4 linked regions of the Homo sapiens genome follow. The protein of the gene in region 2 purifies or fractionates together with the protein of the main gene of each other region. This does not show direct contact. Each region holds a gene or a part of one and is shown on either strand. Other genes may lie near its edges.

Region 1 (4,106 bases), on a different chromosome or scaffold from region 2:
TCTGAGGCAAAGATAACTTTTCCACAAGTTTCCACTGAATGATGCTCATGTCTTTTCCACCAGTTGATATCAGGTGACTGTCATTGTGAGTAAAACTGACATTGGTGACATGGCTGCTGTGGGCACTGTACTTGTGACTGGGAGCCTATATGAAATAAATCAGACAGACAGGAAAATTAAACTCATTCTTGACATGCCTGTTTCAGAAATGGAGGTGATACGTAAGGGGGGTAAACTCAGCTTGTGAAATGGGCAATCCAATTTAAAGCCAGAAGTCATCAAATCTCAGGAGTAAGGCTAGCCGTTATTTCCTTTTATTATCACTTTACATAGGAAAAACGAAACAGAAGAATTGGACATCTCTGTATTTTCACACTATATGTTTAAAAAAATAGCTAAAAGTCTGTCTCTTCTAGATGTTGGTCGTATACTTGCCAGAGCTTAGTAATTATTCTTCTGAAATGGTTAGGGGAACATTTACTATGTTGGTAGGATTACAGGACATTCGGGAAACAGTTCCATTAGTTTTATAACGTTGAATATGTATCCAACAAATAAAATATTTTAAAATATTTAGGAGAGATTTTAAATTGCCAACAAATCAAAATAAAAAGCAACCGGACAATAAAGAAACAGGAATAACATCATCGGTCGTCATTTCTACAGCTCACTTCTCCTTAGCCTTAGGAAGGGGGAGAAGACAAGCACTGCCTGGATGGATGCTCACCGATGGCCCTTATCTCCCTCTGTGCACTGGAGTATCATGGAGAGGAATCAGTAACCTATATTTTCTTGCTATGGATGCAAAATCATCCCTGGACAGAAGGCCTTATAACATTAGTTTCTATTAAAGTGAGTTTACCTTTGCTTTGGAGCAGGGATACTGAAACAGATGGACTTTACAAAAGTCATCGGCAACAGCTATCACCTTTCTATTGTGGGATCGCACCAGTGCATTGATATCTGTCCCATCAGATCCTTCTGGCCAGACACCTTTGATATGGAAACACAGGGATGCAGAAAAATTAGCTGAAGAAATATAACTGTGATGCTATATATGTTTATTTTATTTTAGAATCTGTTTAGCTTTTATCTATGTTCAAACTCTTAGCTGTTAACATTTCCTTTACAAATTTCTCAGTGGCTCACACTGTTCTTCATTCAAATCAAGTCCTGTCCAAAATCTAACTAATAAAAAACCAAAATAGCCCCAAAATGGAAAACTTAAAGACTCAATGGTACTCAATGGTAACCAGCAGGTGGTGCTAATAATTTATTTTACTTTCAGCTTGACTTACACCTCAGCAATAAGCTCTTCCTTTTTAAAGTTTCTGGATGGAGGGAATCAGTTACTTGTATAGACAAGGTTCAAAAACAAAGCCATAACACCAAGTCTTCGAAGTGGAGTCTAGGTTTTCTTTCAGGCAAGCACCTCCAAGAAAACCTCAGAGAGATTATTTCTTTTAGAAAGCATAGGCCATCCACTAGTTTAGCATGCTATCCCATGTAATTTTCCTGGAAAGATTATGTCCCAAGATAAGACACGTCAAATTTAATTATTCTGAATCATTATGCAGCACTAATGATCATGTCGAACATAATTTTCACAAACCTCTATTAGGCTAGATTGAAACTATGGAAGATTTAAGGGTTGAGATGTTGGCCACTTGTGGTTGAATGCTACTCTAGAGAACAAATATGTTTTTGGTAAATTTGCTAAAAACAAGTCAAAATACTTTAAAATTGGTCTCTCTTAATAATTTAAATAAATAATGTCTTCATTAAAATAACCACAGAAGCTACCAGCTATGGGTCACTGCTTCATTTTCACGTAGAATAATGAAATTGTTTATGGACAGAATTATTTTGTTTTTAATTCCTTCCTGGCCTATTAGGCTTCTCTGTCTTGATAGCACTTGTGTTTAGAACAACCACCTATAATGGATTATTTTCCTAATGCACATAGCATAAAGAAATGTTCAGATCTATGATCAGGCTGGAGAACCCAATTTTCAGAAGGCAGAGATAAATTGTTAAAGAGAAAATATTAATTTTTGTGTATTGCTTTAGGTATTGGTGCCACATCCATATCCAGTATTTTAATTACCTGAGCATAACACTTCTTTTTAATTCTTTGCAAATAACGCTTTATTATTTTAACTTTTCCATCTATCTTCTAACCCTTTCAGAAGGATACCTAAATACTGAGGAAGGCTTAGAAAACAGTCATAGAGGTCGGATTTCCAGAAAGTTACAAAACGTCAGATTAGGAAGAAGCCCCACATAGTTATCTTTATATAATTCTCCTAAAAATGCCTTTGTATTTCAACAAGTGGTGTAAGGCAACTAGACATCCACACGCAAAATAATAATAAAATACACTGACAAGGACATGGAGGAACCAGAACCCTCGTACACTGCTGGTGGAAATGTAAATGTAGTCACTGTGGAAAACAGTCTGGCAGTTGCTCAAAAGAGTAAACATACAGTTACCATTTGACTCAGCAATTCTACTCCTAGGTAAATACCCAAGAGAAATGAAAACATGTCTACACAAAAACCTGCACATGACTGTTCACAGCAGTGGTATTCATAATAGCTGAAAAGTAGAAACAGCCCAAGTGTCCATCAGCTGATGAATGAATTAACAAAATGTCATCTATCCATACAATGGGATATTACTCAGCCATAAAAAGAGTAAAGTACTGATGTATGCTACAACGTGGATAAACCTTGAAAACGTTATGCTAAATCACAGAAGCTAGTCTCAGTGGATCAAATATTGTATGATTCCCCTTATATAAACTATACAGAAAAGGCAAATCAATAACAGATTAGTGGTTGCTGGGGGGTGGGGTAGAGGATAAGAGAGATGGGGTAACTGTTAATGGGTACAGAGTTTCTTTGTGGGGTAATGAAAATGTTCTAAAATTAGACCTTGATGGTCACACAACTAAGTATACAAAAACCACTGAATTTTACACTTTATTTATTTATGAGCTGGAGTCTCACTCTGTCACCCAGGCTGGAGTGCAGTGGCACAATCTCAGCTCACTGCAGCCTCTGCCTCCCAGGTTCAAGCAGTTCTCCTGCCTCAGCCTCCCACGTAACTGGGATTACAGGTGCACGTCACCACGCCCAGCTAATTTTTGTATTTTTAGCAGAGACAGGGTTTCACCATGTTGGCCAGGCTGGTCTCGAACTCCTGAACTCAGGTGATTTGCCCACCTCGGCCTCCCAAAGTGCTAGAATTACAGGTGTGAGCCACTGCGCCCAGCCTGAATTTTACACTTTAGGTGAATTGTATGGCATGTATCTCAAGCTATTTAAAAATGCCTTTCCAAATTTAATAACTTCAATTTTCACTTAAAGAAAAACGGGAAGGTAATCTGTACTACTATGTAAATTCCTTGTCTTTCATATTAAGGACCAAAAGTGCTTGATTCTGCAAAATACAAATCCCATGTTGGTTCAATCCTAATACATTTAATTTCTCTGAGGCTGACATTAATAGTGATAAAGCTAAAGAATACACAGACTATTTTTCATTTATAAATTTAAGCAAGTAAATATTATATATAAAAAACCCACAAACCACTTCTTTACATCAGGTGTCATTTCCTTACCAAATACTTGAAATCCTAGCACACAGGTATATGTCGTCCAATCAATGTCCTTACAATCCGATCGATTCCTGATTAGTTTGCAGCCATTTGGAATGTCCCCTTTAAATTTAGAAACAGGAAGTATAATCATAGTGCTTGTGTACAAATGTATTTGAAAGTGCATCTTGATTCAAACTAGCCACGTTTACTTGTATTTATAATCCATACACTGAAAAACATTAAGACACATTTAAAAAGGAAAAGAAAGTGTTCACTTTAACAGGGTTTATAAAACTACAAACTGTTTCCCATGGAAGTTTTTTTTTTCCTCTAAAAAGCATAAATGCCCATCTATCATATTCCTCCCTGCCTCCAGGAGAAGTAATTAAATGAAAAACCATTCAGAGCAGCATCAATTTGACAGAGTAATTTCTTATTACTATATGTGCCTTCTGTTCTACACTATTAACATTAATTCATTACTCTTGGAGAAGTGAATCA
Region 2 (4,258 bases):
GGGACCCTCTCTAAGTCCTCCAGGGCCCTCTTTCTCCTCCCTCCCAGAATGGTAAGTATTTCTCACTGGATAAATCTTTGGTTCTCTTCTCTAGTCTTCTTCTGTCTCACTTGGATCTCTCTCAGGAGAAAGGTACCCTCGTGGCTCCAACTGCTTCTCTTTTGTCTGTTATTTTTTGGGGGGGTTGTGGGGGATGGAGTCTTGCTCTTGTTGCCCAGGCCAGAGTGCTGTGGTGCAATCTCAACTCACTGCAACCTCCACCTCCCCGGTTCAAGCGATTCTCCTGTCTCAGCCTCCCGAGCAGCTGAGACTATAGGTGTGCACCACCACACCCGGCTAACCTTTCTATTTTTAGTAGAGATGGGGTTTCACCATGTTGGTCAGGCTGGTCTGACTCCTGACCTTAGGTGATCCACCAGCCTCAGCCTCCCAATTTTTTTGTTGTTGTTGTTTGTTTGTTTTGAGACAGAGTCTTGCTCTGTTGCCCAGGCTGGAGTGTGATGCCACTTGTCCCGGGTTCAAGTGATTCTCCTGCCTCGGCCTCCCGAGTAGCTGAGATTACAGGCATGTGCCACCACGCCCGGCTAATTTTGTATTTTTAGTAGAGACGAGGTTTCACCATGTTGGTCAGGCTGGTCTTGAACTCCTGACCTCAGGTGATCCACCCGCCTCGGCCTCCCAAAGCGCTGGGATTACAGGCGTGAGCCACCACGCCCGGCCCAACTGCTCCTCTTTAAACACTGTCCTCACATATTGCTTCCATTCTGGTACTTTCTGCAGCCAAGATTCCACTTTTCCCACTGTCTGCAGCACACTGCCACCTAGACATGGCCCCAACACCTGAAACAACATAGATGAACCTGGATTCACTGTTCTTCCTCCTAACTATATCCTCCTGCTTTTCCACTTCCCTAGACCTCTCTGTCCTCCCAGGAATGCAACTCTGGGAGCCGTCTTGGATTTCCTCTCCTTTTTGTTCCTGGCTTTTGATCAGCCCCGAATATATGCAGTTTGTCAATGGCGGCATCTCTGTATCCATTCCTTGAACAAGGCCCCCAAGACCTTCTGCTAGGATCATTTCAAAGGCTGCCCACCACCCCCCAGTTTTCTGCAAGGCAAAGAGTTTAGGGAGCTGTTAACAGGGCAACAGGGTACGGTGGGGGATGGTTGGAATATGAAGTAAAACTGGGAACGTTTAAACTGGTACGTCTTTCTTATTTTGTCACAATGAACATTTAGTCTATTAAAGGCTCTGAAAAGTCCTGTAGTAAAGAAATCTGTAAAATTTATTTATCCCAGGGCTTCCCAAACTTACTTGAGCTCTGATTGCTAGTTTTAAAAATTTATTCATTATATTAAAATGCAACTTTTTCGTAATTTTATTTATTTATTTATTTATTTTTTAGAGAGGGTTTCACACTATCGCCTAGGCTGGAGTGCAGTGGTACGATCATAGCTCACTGTAGCCCTGAACTCTTGGCCTCAGCCTCCCAAAGTGCTGGGATTACAGGTGTGAGCCACTGAGCCTGGCCTGAGAGCTTCTTTCATGGCCTCCTTATTAACGCTCTGCAGGACATCGTTTCAAGGTTCATTGGTTTAGAAACACTAAGCTAGTTTATCTTTTCTTTCTTTTTTTTGAGACAGAGTTGCCCTCTGTTGCCCATACTGGAGTACAATGGCACGATCTTGGCTCACTGCAACCTCTGCCTCCTGGGTTCAAGCAATTCTCATGCTTCAGCCTCCCGAGTAGCTGGGATTACAGGCGCCCGCCACCACGCCTCACTGATTTTTGTATTTTTAGTAGAGACGGGGTTTCATCATGTTGGGCAGGCTGGTCTAGAACTCCTGACCTCAGGTGATCTGCCTGCCTCAGCCTCCCAAAGTTCTAGGATTACAGGCGTGAGCCACCATGCCCGGCCTGGGCTAGTCTTTCTAACCATCCTCCATGTCTTCCAGTGGATCCTACACATCTGACGATGACTTTCCTAAGGTACAGCTCTGACTGCATCGACACCCTGCTAGGGGACCTCCCATAGCTCCTCAATGTTTGCCACATAAAACCCAGATGTTTCCCTACCTCGCCCCCATTGGCACTTCCCACTCTTTAGTGCCACATTTCACTATTAGGACTTAAGACATCTAAGCTCCAGCCACACCACACCCATTTCTGGCCACACCCCCCATGCCATGGCAAGTTCTCCAAACTTCCTTAAGGAAGCGACCTCATTCTCCCCTGTCCTCCCCGTTCCTCTGTATCCCTCTTCTGGCAAACACTGCAAACTGCCTGCTTTTTTTTTTTGAGAGGGAGTCTTGCTCTGTTGCCAGGCTGGAGTAAAGTGGCACGACCTCGGCTCACTGCCACCTCCGACTCCTGGTTTAAGTGAGTCTCCTGCTTCAGCCTCCCAAGTAGCTGGAATTACAGGCATGCGCTACCACGCTTAGCTGATTTTTGTATTTTTAGTAGAGATGGGGTTTCACCATGTTGGCCAGGATGGTCTCGATCTCCTGACCTCACGATCCGCCTGCCTCGGCCTCCCAAAGTGCTGGGATTACAGGCGTGAGCCACTGCACCCAGCCGCTGCTTGCTCCTTAAGTGTGTCTGCCTGATTTCCCTCTGGGCAGGTGCCATATCATACGACCTGCATCCCCCCACTTCATGGGCCTTTACAAGACAGGAGCGCTATAGATACTAGATATTAAATGAATGGATGAAATGATCATCCTCCCTATCGTCTGCTGCAGTGAAGCAAGCTCTCTGGAAGCTGTTAAGTTATACGAACCAAAAGTCAAAATATACAACCAAATAATAATCATACCATGAGTAGGATAAAAGCATAGTAGAGAAGGATCTGGAAGGCTGCTGCTGCAGCTTTTTTTTTTTTTTTGAGACAGAGTCTCGTTCTGTCACCCAGGCTGGAGTACAGTGGCGCTATCTCAGCTCACTGCAACCTCCGCCTCCCGGGTTCAAGTGATTCTCGTGCCTCAGCCTCCCGAGCAGCTGGGATTACAGGCGCCTGCCAGCATGCCCAGCCAGTTTTTGTATTTTTAGTAGAGATGGGATTTCACCATGTTGGCGAGGCTGGTCTTGAACTCCTGGCCTCAAGTGACCTGCCCGCCTCAGCCTCCCAAAGTTCTAGGATTACAGGTGTGAGCCACCATGCCCGGCCAGATCTGGAAGGCTTCTAAAGAAAGTTCTGGTCACAGAAAGAGAAGAGTGTGGCTAGGCACAGTGGCTCACACCTGTGATCACAGCACTTTGGGAGGCTGAGGCAGGAGTACTGCTTGAATCCAGGAGTTCAACACCAGCCTGGGCAACATAGTGAGACCCTGTCTCTACTGAAAAGTACAAAAAGTACAAAAGTACAAAAATGAGCCGGACATGGTGGTGCTTGCCTGTAGTCCCAGCTACTCAGGAGGCTGAGGTTGGAGGATCACTTGAGCCCAGGAGGTCAAGGCTGCAGTGAGCCATGATTGCACCACTGCACTCTAACTTGGGCAAGAGAGCGAGACCCTGTATGAAAAAAAGGAAGGAAGGAAGGAAGGGAAGGAAGGGAAGGAAGGGAAGGGAGGGAAGGGAAGGGAAGGAAGGAAGGGGAAGGGGAAGGGGAAGGGGAAGGGAAGGTAGGAAGGAAGGAAGGAAGGACAAAGGAATAAAAATGATCAGAAGGAAGGAAGGAAGGAAAAGTGAAAGAAGAGTAACTCAGATATTATGGTTTATAAAAGGCAGGGGAATCCAGCAGACATGAAATGTCACCTTCAAATGTGTAGAGAGCTTTGCACGTCCCTATGGCAGGGAGGGGCTCCTCATCATCAAACTCGTCGTCAAAATCCGTGGCCAGCACCTTCATCTCACTCTCCTGACTCTGCTCCTCTGTGTAACTGCCATCTGGGCTGCTCAAGAAAGGAAAACACAAAGCAACTAAAGCGACTGACCCCAGGGAGGACTCAGATTGAGTCCCTGCGACTGGAGAGCACTTGCAACCCCGCCCCTCAGCGAGTGCTGTAACTGAGGCCATGGTAAATCATCGCACGCTCAGATCACCCATCCCATGTGGAATTATAAATCTGCATCATGGAAAAAGTGACAGGTCAATCGCAACAGACATTTTGGCATTGAACAAGTGCCTTATGGTCATTCCAGATTCCAAAATTTAGAAATAAATACAAAGCCAACAGGCTCCCTTGCCAGAGGCAGGCGCTGTGCAGATACTGTACCTCTCACGGTCCTGGGCGCAGTTGTTGACTGTGGGTGGGTTCT
Region 3 (4,258 bases), on a different chromosome or scaffold from region 2:
CTGGCTGGAGGGCAGTGGCTATTGACAGGAGTGATCACAGCTCAGTGCAGCCTCAAACTCCTAGGATCAAGTGATCCTCCTGCCTTAGCCTCCTGAGTAGCTGGGACTATAGGAACACACCACCACACCCAGCTCATAAGTTTGTTTTCATATTGAAAATTTCATCAAACCTATATCCCCTGTCAGCTATGGCAAAACATACTTACAGCTCGCTGCTCTGCATAAGCTCGATGAGATCCATAAAAAGCACATCCCGGTTCCTTTCACAAAAGCCATCCATGTCATAGGATACCTGGCCAAGAATGGAAAGAAATCGAATTTCATTGAACAAAATGTAATTAATTGAACAAAATCATTTATTGAACAAAAAATCTAATTTCACCAAACAAAAAACCAAAGCTGTCATGGCTACCCTCACCACAACATGTGGATTTCCAGATGTTGCATTTGGGATTTCATTGTGCACTGTCACAGGAAGGCTGTGCACGTCTTACTTGTTAGCTGACTTAGTGGGGAAGGCCTGCAGATGCTGATGAGTATCTGGCTGCCTGGATGGCCCAGCTGATCCGTAATCAGAACTCCAGCTCTCAAGTCCCCATACCCCTTCTTCAGTGGATCCATAGGGGTGTCTAAGTGACATACTCAATACTTTTCCTAAATTTTAGCTAAGCCAGAGCAAAAGTGAAGCCCCTCATGCTCAGTAATTCACTGCAATGAGCCATGTCATCTGAGGCTTTGCAGTTTCTCCCAGAAGTGGTATCAAAGTTGCACCAATCTGGCCAGAAACTCATGCTCAGATACTCTGTTTAACAAGAGATCAGCTGGGATGATGGATGAGACCAGGGGATTTCCATAGCACTAGGAAGTCCCCAAGACCACGACCTCAACTTAACTTTTTTATCATCAGCAGCCCCACACAGCCTGGCATCCAGTAGGCACCCAATACTGATGGGCTTTATAAGAACACCAAAAGTGCACTCTGGGCCTTGATTTATACTACCAGTAGGCATGGGGAGACAAGGAATGCCAGTCTGTGATTCCAGCAAGAGGCAAGACGAAAATCCATTTATTCAGCAGCTAATACATGTAGCAGGGTGATTCATTTTCCAAAAATATGCAGTAGTATGCTGAGATTTAGTGCTGGAGTGACTCCCAGCCGGCCCCTACCCTGCTGAAGCCCCAGCCGACTGTCCCAGGGTGGGTCCTGGCCAGGACTGGCACCAAGGCAGTGGAATCCTTTCAAAATAGGCCTCCAGCGCCATAGACCAGAAAGCAGGCGCCCAATTCTGGGACACTGGGAGATGGTGCAGGCAGCCACCAGTACGCAAAGCATAGAGCCCTATCCTTCCTGGCAGGGTCACGGTTCAGAAAACGTAACCTTATTTTCATCTGTAGTTAACAGAAGCATGTTTCCTCAGCATTCATATTAAAAATAAAAAACTAGTAATTCCAGGGATCTCGGTTAGCCTCTTAAGCATGTCAACTATTGATAATACTCTTAGCAAAACTAACTCCAGAAATCACTTGCTAGAGAAGCAGCCCTTCACTGCCTTAGTCTGAGCACCCACGGAAAGCACGTGTCGGAGACTCTGGCAAGGCCCGCGCAGCCGCAGTAGAGGGCCAGGGGGCGGGGCACGCGCACCTGCCGTAGAGTGCTGAAGGTCCTGCCAACGGCTCTCTTGGCGTCTCAACGTTCGGATCAGCAGCTTTTTTCCATTCTCTCTCTCCACTTCTTCAGTGAGCAGCCATGAGTTGGACTGTGCCTGTTGTGCGGGCCAGCCAGAGAGTGAGCTCGGTGGGAGCGAATTTCCTATGCCTGGGGATGGCCCTGTGTCCGCGTCAAGCAACGCGCATCCCGCTCAACGGCACCTGGCTCTTCACCCCCGTGAGCAAGATGGCGACTGTGAAGAGTGAGCTTATTGAGCGTTTCACTTCCGAGAAGCCCGTTCATCACAGTAAGGTCTCCATCATAGGAACTGGATCGGTGGGCATGGCCTGCGCTATCAGCATCTTATTAAAAGGCTTGAGTGATGAACTTGCCCTTGTGGATCTTGATGAAGACAAACTGAAGGGTGAGACGATGGATCTTCAACATGGCAGCCCTTTCACGAAAATGCCAAATATTGTTTGTAGCAAAGATTACTTTGTCACAGCAAACTCCAACCTAGTGATTATCACAGCAGGTGCACGCCAAGAAAAGGGAGAAACGCGCCTTAATTTAGTCCAGCGAAATGTGGCCATCTTCAAGTTAATGATTTCCAGTATTGTCCAGTACAGCCCCCACTGCAAACTGATTATTGTTTCCAATCCAGTGGATATCTTAACTTATGTAGCTTGGAAGTTGAGTGCATTTCCCAAAAACCGTATTATTGGAAGCGGCTGTAATCTGGATACTGCTCGTTTTCGTTTCTTGATTGGACAAAAGCTTGGTATCCATTCTGAAAGCTGCCATGGATGGATCCTCGGAGAGCATGGAGACTCAAGTGTTCCTGTGTGGAGTGGAGTGAACATAGCTGGTGTCCCTTTGAAGGATCTGAACTCTGATATAGGAACTGATAAAGATCCTGAGCAATGGAAAAATGTCCACAAAGAAGTGACTGCAACTGCCTATGAGATTATTAAAATGAAAGGTTATACTTCTTGGGCCATTGGCCTATCTGTGGCCGATTTAACAGAAAGTATTTTGAAGAATCTTAGGAGAATACATCCAGTTTCCACCATAATTAAGGGCCTCTATGGAATAGATGAAGAAGTATTCCTCAGTATTCCTTGTATCCTGGGAGAGAACGGTATTACCAACCTTATAAAGATAAAGCTGACCCCTGAAGAAGAGGCCCATCTGAAAAAAAGTGCAAAAACACTCTGGGAAATTCAGAATAAGCTTAAGCTTTAAAGTTGCCTAAAACTACCATTCCGAAATTATTGAAGAGATCATAGATACAGGATTATATAACGAAATTTTGAATAAACTTGAATTCCTAAAAGATGGAAACAGGAAAGTAGGTAGAGTGATTTTCCTATTTATTTAGTCCTCCAGCTCTTTTATTGAGCATCCACGTGCTGGACGATACTTATTTACAATTCCTAAGTATTTTTGGTACCTCTGATGTAGCAGCACTTGCCATGTTATATATATGTAGTTGGCATTTGGTTCCCAAAAAGTAGGATGTAGGTATTTATTGTGTTCTAGAAATTCCGACTCTTTTCATTAGATATATGCTATTTCTTTCATTCTTGCTGGTTTATACCTATGTTCATTTATATGCTGTAAAAAAGTAGTAGCTTCTTCTACAATGTAAAAATAAATGTACATACAAAAAAATGCAGTAGTATATACAATCTTTTGTTTTGCTTCCTTTGATAGTTAATAAATTCCGTTTGTTGAATCAATAAAATACGGCGAGCCATATGATTTGCTTCATGAGAAACCAGATCACAAACCCAAAGGCTTAAAACAGATAGACATTAAAATGGATATTGGCCATACCTTCCCAGCATAATGATGAATGATGAAGCCTTGGTTCCAACTGTTGAAGTGCTCATGACTCCCAATCTGCATCTGAAGTTTCTGGAGCAGCGTCTGATCTGCCCCCTCACCCACCGCATGCATCGTGGCGCACACGTCATCCAGGATGCTCATGATGCCAGGAGGGTTCTGATGGGAGCAAGAAGGCAAGGCCCTAGTCACTGACCTCTCCAAAACAGACAATGCTTATCAGGTCCTTTCTTAGGCAAGGAAACAGCTCCCCAGACTTAAGATACCATCTTGAAAGTCAGTATTCCCCTTCAGGCAAGAATGCAATTAATAGTCCCAAATAGGGAGTCACCACTTAGATCTAAAGAGGGAGGAAACTCCACTTTCCAAAAAGCTGTTTAACTCCCTGAAGTTTTATCCAAGAGTCATGCACAGATCATTATCTGCTCACTCATAGTCATGCCAAATTGACTTGCTTAAGAATCCAAAAGTAAAAACATTTTCCTTTGACCTAATCTATTTCTTAATGTTCTCTTTCAGCGTGTTACCCATATAGGCATCATTTCGGTAGTTATTTAGTGTACACATTCTATAATGCATTTCCTTTTTCACATAGCACTATTTTATAAGCATTCCTCATGTTTTACACATTCTTCACACTTACTATTTTAATGGCTATACTTCTCTGTTCTGATATGCTATAGTTTGTTTAATAACTAAGTTGTCTGGCCGGGCATGGTGGCTCATGCCTGTAATCCCAGCAATTTAGGAGGCCGAGGGGGG
Region 4 (3,511 bases), on a different chromosome or scaffold from region 2:
ATTGGGCAAATGGGTCATGCAGATGAAAACCATCCAAGATAAGAGACATGGGAGTGAAATTCACACCCACTCTGGCTTTCATACCATGGGTCTGAACATTAGCCCATGGTGTTTCTTGGCCATACTGACCTGTGCCATTTCAGCTGCATTCATCTCAGTTGGTGTTGTCTGCTGGCTGCTCTTTCTGATTTCCCACAGGAGCAGTAAGAACCTGAGGAAGAGTAGGGTCAGAGGAGTCTGGGAGAATGAGGAAATATGAGAGCCCCAGGAACTGAAAAGGCCTGTGAGAGACTCTGAGCTTCCTGGGAACAGGTATAGGTTCTTTTTATTTCAATAATAACAGAAACAACTGTCAAAACCATGTGCCTGTACTATTTGGAGTGCTGTCCTTGCAGAATCTCATTATAAGAACCTTAGGAAATAGGCACATCATCTCCTGGATAGAATCCTAGGAAATGGGCACTATAATGGGCACTTTATCCCATTTTATAAACATGGAAATTGAGGCACAGAGAGATTAAGTACTTTCCCAAGGTCATACAGCTAGTGATGGAGGAGCTAGCATTTGAACCCGGAGTTTTTAGTCTATTGAGTTTAACCGACAGATCATACTGTGTTTTGGTAGGGAGGGAGGGAGGAAGCAAGCAAGTGAACAAATGAGTCTGGGATTTAGGACTTGCCAGACAAACAAGGCCCAAGAGGCAAGTGTGCAGGTGGGTGTAGTTGGGAGTCAGCAGAGTTGGGTTGGAATTCAAGCTTTGCCACCTGCTGGCTATAAACCTTGGTTGGGTAAGTAACCCAAGGTAAATGAGATCATCTCTGTAAAACTCTTAGCCTTGTGCCTGGCACATAGTAAATGCTTAATAAGGGTTCACTGTTAGTATTACTGTTACTGATAACATACAAATAGATTGTATTAATGGACCATAATTGCAACTGTATAAAACAAATTCCATGTTTGGCCAGGCGCAGTGGCTCAAGCCTGTAATCCCATCACTTCGGGAGGCCGAGGTGGGCAGATCACGAGGTCAGGAGATCAAGACCATCCTGGCTAACACAGTGAAACCCCATCTCTACTAAAAATACAAAAAAATTAGCCAGGCATGGTGGCGGGTGCCTGTATTCCCAGCTACTTGGGAGGCTGAGGCAGGAGAATGGCGCGAACCCAGGGGGCGGAGCTTGCAGTGAGCTGTAATTGTGCCACTGCACTCCAGCCTGGGCGACAGAGCGAGACTCCGTCTCAAAAAAAAAAAAAAAAACCACAACAACAACAACAAAAATTCCATGTTGACAAGGATGGGAATATGAGAACATGGAAACAGCTATGAAAAGACATAAGAGAATTAGGAGGATTTTCTTTAATATATCATTTTTTAAAAAAAAACTTGCTTGTATTTGTTTATTTTTTAAATAGAGACAGGGTTTTACCATGTTGCCCAGACTAGTCTTGAACTCCTGGGCTCAAGCGATCTTGGCCTCCCTAAGTGCTGGGATTACAGTCATGAGCCACTGTGCCCCGCCATTTTTTAATAAACCTTTCTAATGGAACAAGTAAAACACATGCAGTGGATGCTCAGCAGGCCTTGAGTGTGTGAATGAAAAATATTTGAACTTGTTTTTACTGGTTGATTTCATTGCTTAAAAAACATACCTTAGCTGGACGCAGTGGCGTGCGCCTGTAGTCCCAGCTACTCATCTCTTAAAAAAAAAGTTTTATGCTTGTTAATTTCATAAATGCTAGAGGGATCACCCTAATCAAATAAAGCTACTCAAAAATAAAATATGAAAGGTGTTAGTGGGATACAGCTTTCTAGTTTTTTGCCACTAGTGGATAGGTTGGAATTTAAATTCTTCGGATATTGGAACCAGAACAGGCTGTAACTGATTATTTTTGCTGTGATTCGTGCTTACTGGAGCCTCGGGAAAGAGGGAGACAACATGTAAAGAGAAGCAATCTGTTTGGAAAATGAAAATACAGTTAAATTGCTAATGAACCCTTGTCAAAATCAAATGTCTCCCCTTAGAGGCTGATGATTGTCTAGTCTAATATGCATTTTTTTTGAGTGGGTCAATTGGACTCTAAGACCAACAAGATAAAAAGGCAGCCTTGCATGTCACTTGGACCACAGCTGTCTGGCCATGCAGCATGCCTTCACTGCTGCTGAAGAAAAGCAGCTGCTTGTTGAGAATCTCAAATTCTCAGATCCTAATTGCCTGGCCCTGACTCTAAGCTGAAACCTGCTACTGTCTGCCTTGAGCTGTTTTAGCCTCAACACGAGCTATGCTGAACTGAAAGCAGGCACAGGCTCAATGACCAGGACTCAGACGTTGGGGCCGTTGGAGATTAAGGACCCCCTCCGTGGAGCGCTAAACTATGAAAACGTCCTGGAACCTGGCTGAAAAGGGCTTATTCTCTAATGGGACCATCTAAGATCAAGCTGCTGATAGGCTCTTTGTCTCTAATACAGAGGCTAATTGCATTCCTAACTTCTAATATTTGCCAAACGCTCCAAGCTGGGGAAGGGCACATCGCAAGGACTATGACCTCTCCTCCTGCTTTTGACAGACCAGACTCAAACCTTCTCTGGGGCTTCTCTCACTGCTGTTGACTTGTTGCATTCAGCTTTTGGGATTAGTTGCAGCTTGCAACAGTGGACTGACAGCCTGACTCTACTTCCCTCACTTTTCTCCCAGCACACACAGCTTAGTAAGGTAGGTGGATTATTAAAACGTAGCTGTCCCCAGAAAGGTATTAGGCTTTTCTAGTCTGCTCATTGAATAATCAGGACAAAAGGGGTAGAAGATTATGTAAACACATTTTGAAATTTTTAAAAATTCAGGGTTTCATCCTTTATTAGTTTGCTAAGGATACCATAACAAAGTACCACAAACTGAGTGACTTACACAATAGAAACTTATTTTCCTGCAGTTCTGGAGGCTGAAAGTCCAGGACAAGGTGTCGACAGCTTTAGATTCTTCTGAGGCCTCTCTGCTTGGCTTGCAGATGGCTGCCTTCTTACTGTGTCCTTGTATGGTCCCTCTGTCTGGGTGTCTGTGTCCTAATCTTCTCTTTTAATAAGGATACCACTCAGGTTGGATTAGGGCCCATCCTAACAATCCCATTTTAACTTAGTTACCTCTTCAGGGCCTATCTTCAAATATACTCACATTTTGAGGTACAGGTAGATGGTTAGGGCTTCAGCATGAATTTTTGTGGGGACATAATTCAACCCTCCACACATAATTACCAATTTCTGAATGTCTTTCTGGTTAAGTTGCATAAAAACGTTTATCTACTTGAACTCTAGGATGATAGTTAAAAAAAAAAATGTTGGCCAGGCGCAGTGATGGATGCATATGATCCCAGCACTTTGGGAGGCCGAGGTGGGCAGATTGCTTGAGTTCAGGAGTTCAAGACCAGCCTGGCAACATGGTGAAATCCTGTGTCTACAAAAAATGCAAAAATTAGCTGGACATGATGGCATGTGCCTTTGGTTCCAGCTACTTAGGA

The links. Proteins that work in one complex are often made in the same cells at the same time.
Region 1: the proteins of FNBP1 (region 2) and EML4 fractionate together in Homo sapiens (co-fractionation; one large-scale study listed by BioGRID). This does not show direct contact.
Region 3: the proteins of FNBP1 (region 2) and MYO1E fractionate together in Homo sapiens (co-fractionation; one large-scale study listed by BioGRID). This does not show direct contact.
Region 4: the proteins of FNBP1 (region 2) and DCTN5 fractionate together in Homo sapiens (co-fractionation; one large-scale study listed by BioGRID). This does not show direct contact.

Annotation. Positions count from the first base shown.
Region 1 is NC_000002.12:42,325,773-42,329,878, reverse strand, and holds part of EML4 (echinoderm microtubule-associated protein-like 4), read right to left. Parts: intron 3,835-4,106; coding exon of another isoform or gene 3,821-3,834; exon of another isoform or gene 3,737-3,820; intron 3,726-3,736; coding exon 3,627-3,725; intron 994-3,626; coding exon 863-993; intron 146-862; coding exon 1-145. UniProt on the Homo sapiens protein: Essential for the formation and stability of microtubules (MTs). Required for the organization of the mitotic spindle and for the proper attachment of kinetochores to MTs. Promotes the recruitment of NUDC to the mitotic spindle for mitotic progression.
Region 2 is NC_000009.12:129,896,211-129,900,468, forward strand, and holds part of FNBP1 (formin-binding protein 1), read right to left. Parts: coding exon 4,216-4,258; intron 3,895-4,215; coding exon of another isoform or gene 3,892-3,894; coding exon 3,755-3,891; intron 1-3,754. UniProt on the Homo sapiens protein: May act as a link between RND2 signaling and regulation of the actin cytoskeleton. Required to coordinate membrane tubulation with reorganization of the actin cytoskeleton during the late stage of clathrin-mediated endocytosis.
Region 3 is NC_000015.10:59,205,194-59,209,451, forward strand, and holds part of MYO1E (unconventional myosin-Ie), read right to left. Parts: intron 3,656-4,258; coding exon 3,488-3,655; intron 3,396-3,487; exon of another isoform or gene 2,894-3,395; coding exon of another isoform or gene 1,748-2,893; exon of another isoform or gene 1,650-1,747; intron 293-1,649; coding exon 207-292; intron 1-206. Other genes in the region: LDHAL6B (L-lactate dehydrogenase A-like 6B), read left to right, coding at 1,748-2,893. UniProt on the Homo sapiens protein: Actin-based motor molecule with ATPase activity. Unconventional myosins serve in intracellular movements. Their highly divergent tails bind to membranous compartments, which are then moved relative to actin filaments.
Region 4 is NC_000016.10:23,671,886-23,675,396, forward strand, and holds part of DCTN5 (dynactin subunit 5), read left to right. Parts: 3' UTR 1-3,511. UniProt on the Homo sapiens protein: Part of the dynactin complex that activates the molecular motor dynein for ultra-processive transport along microtubules.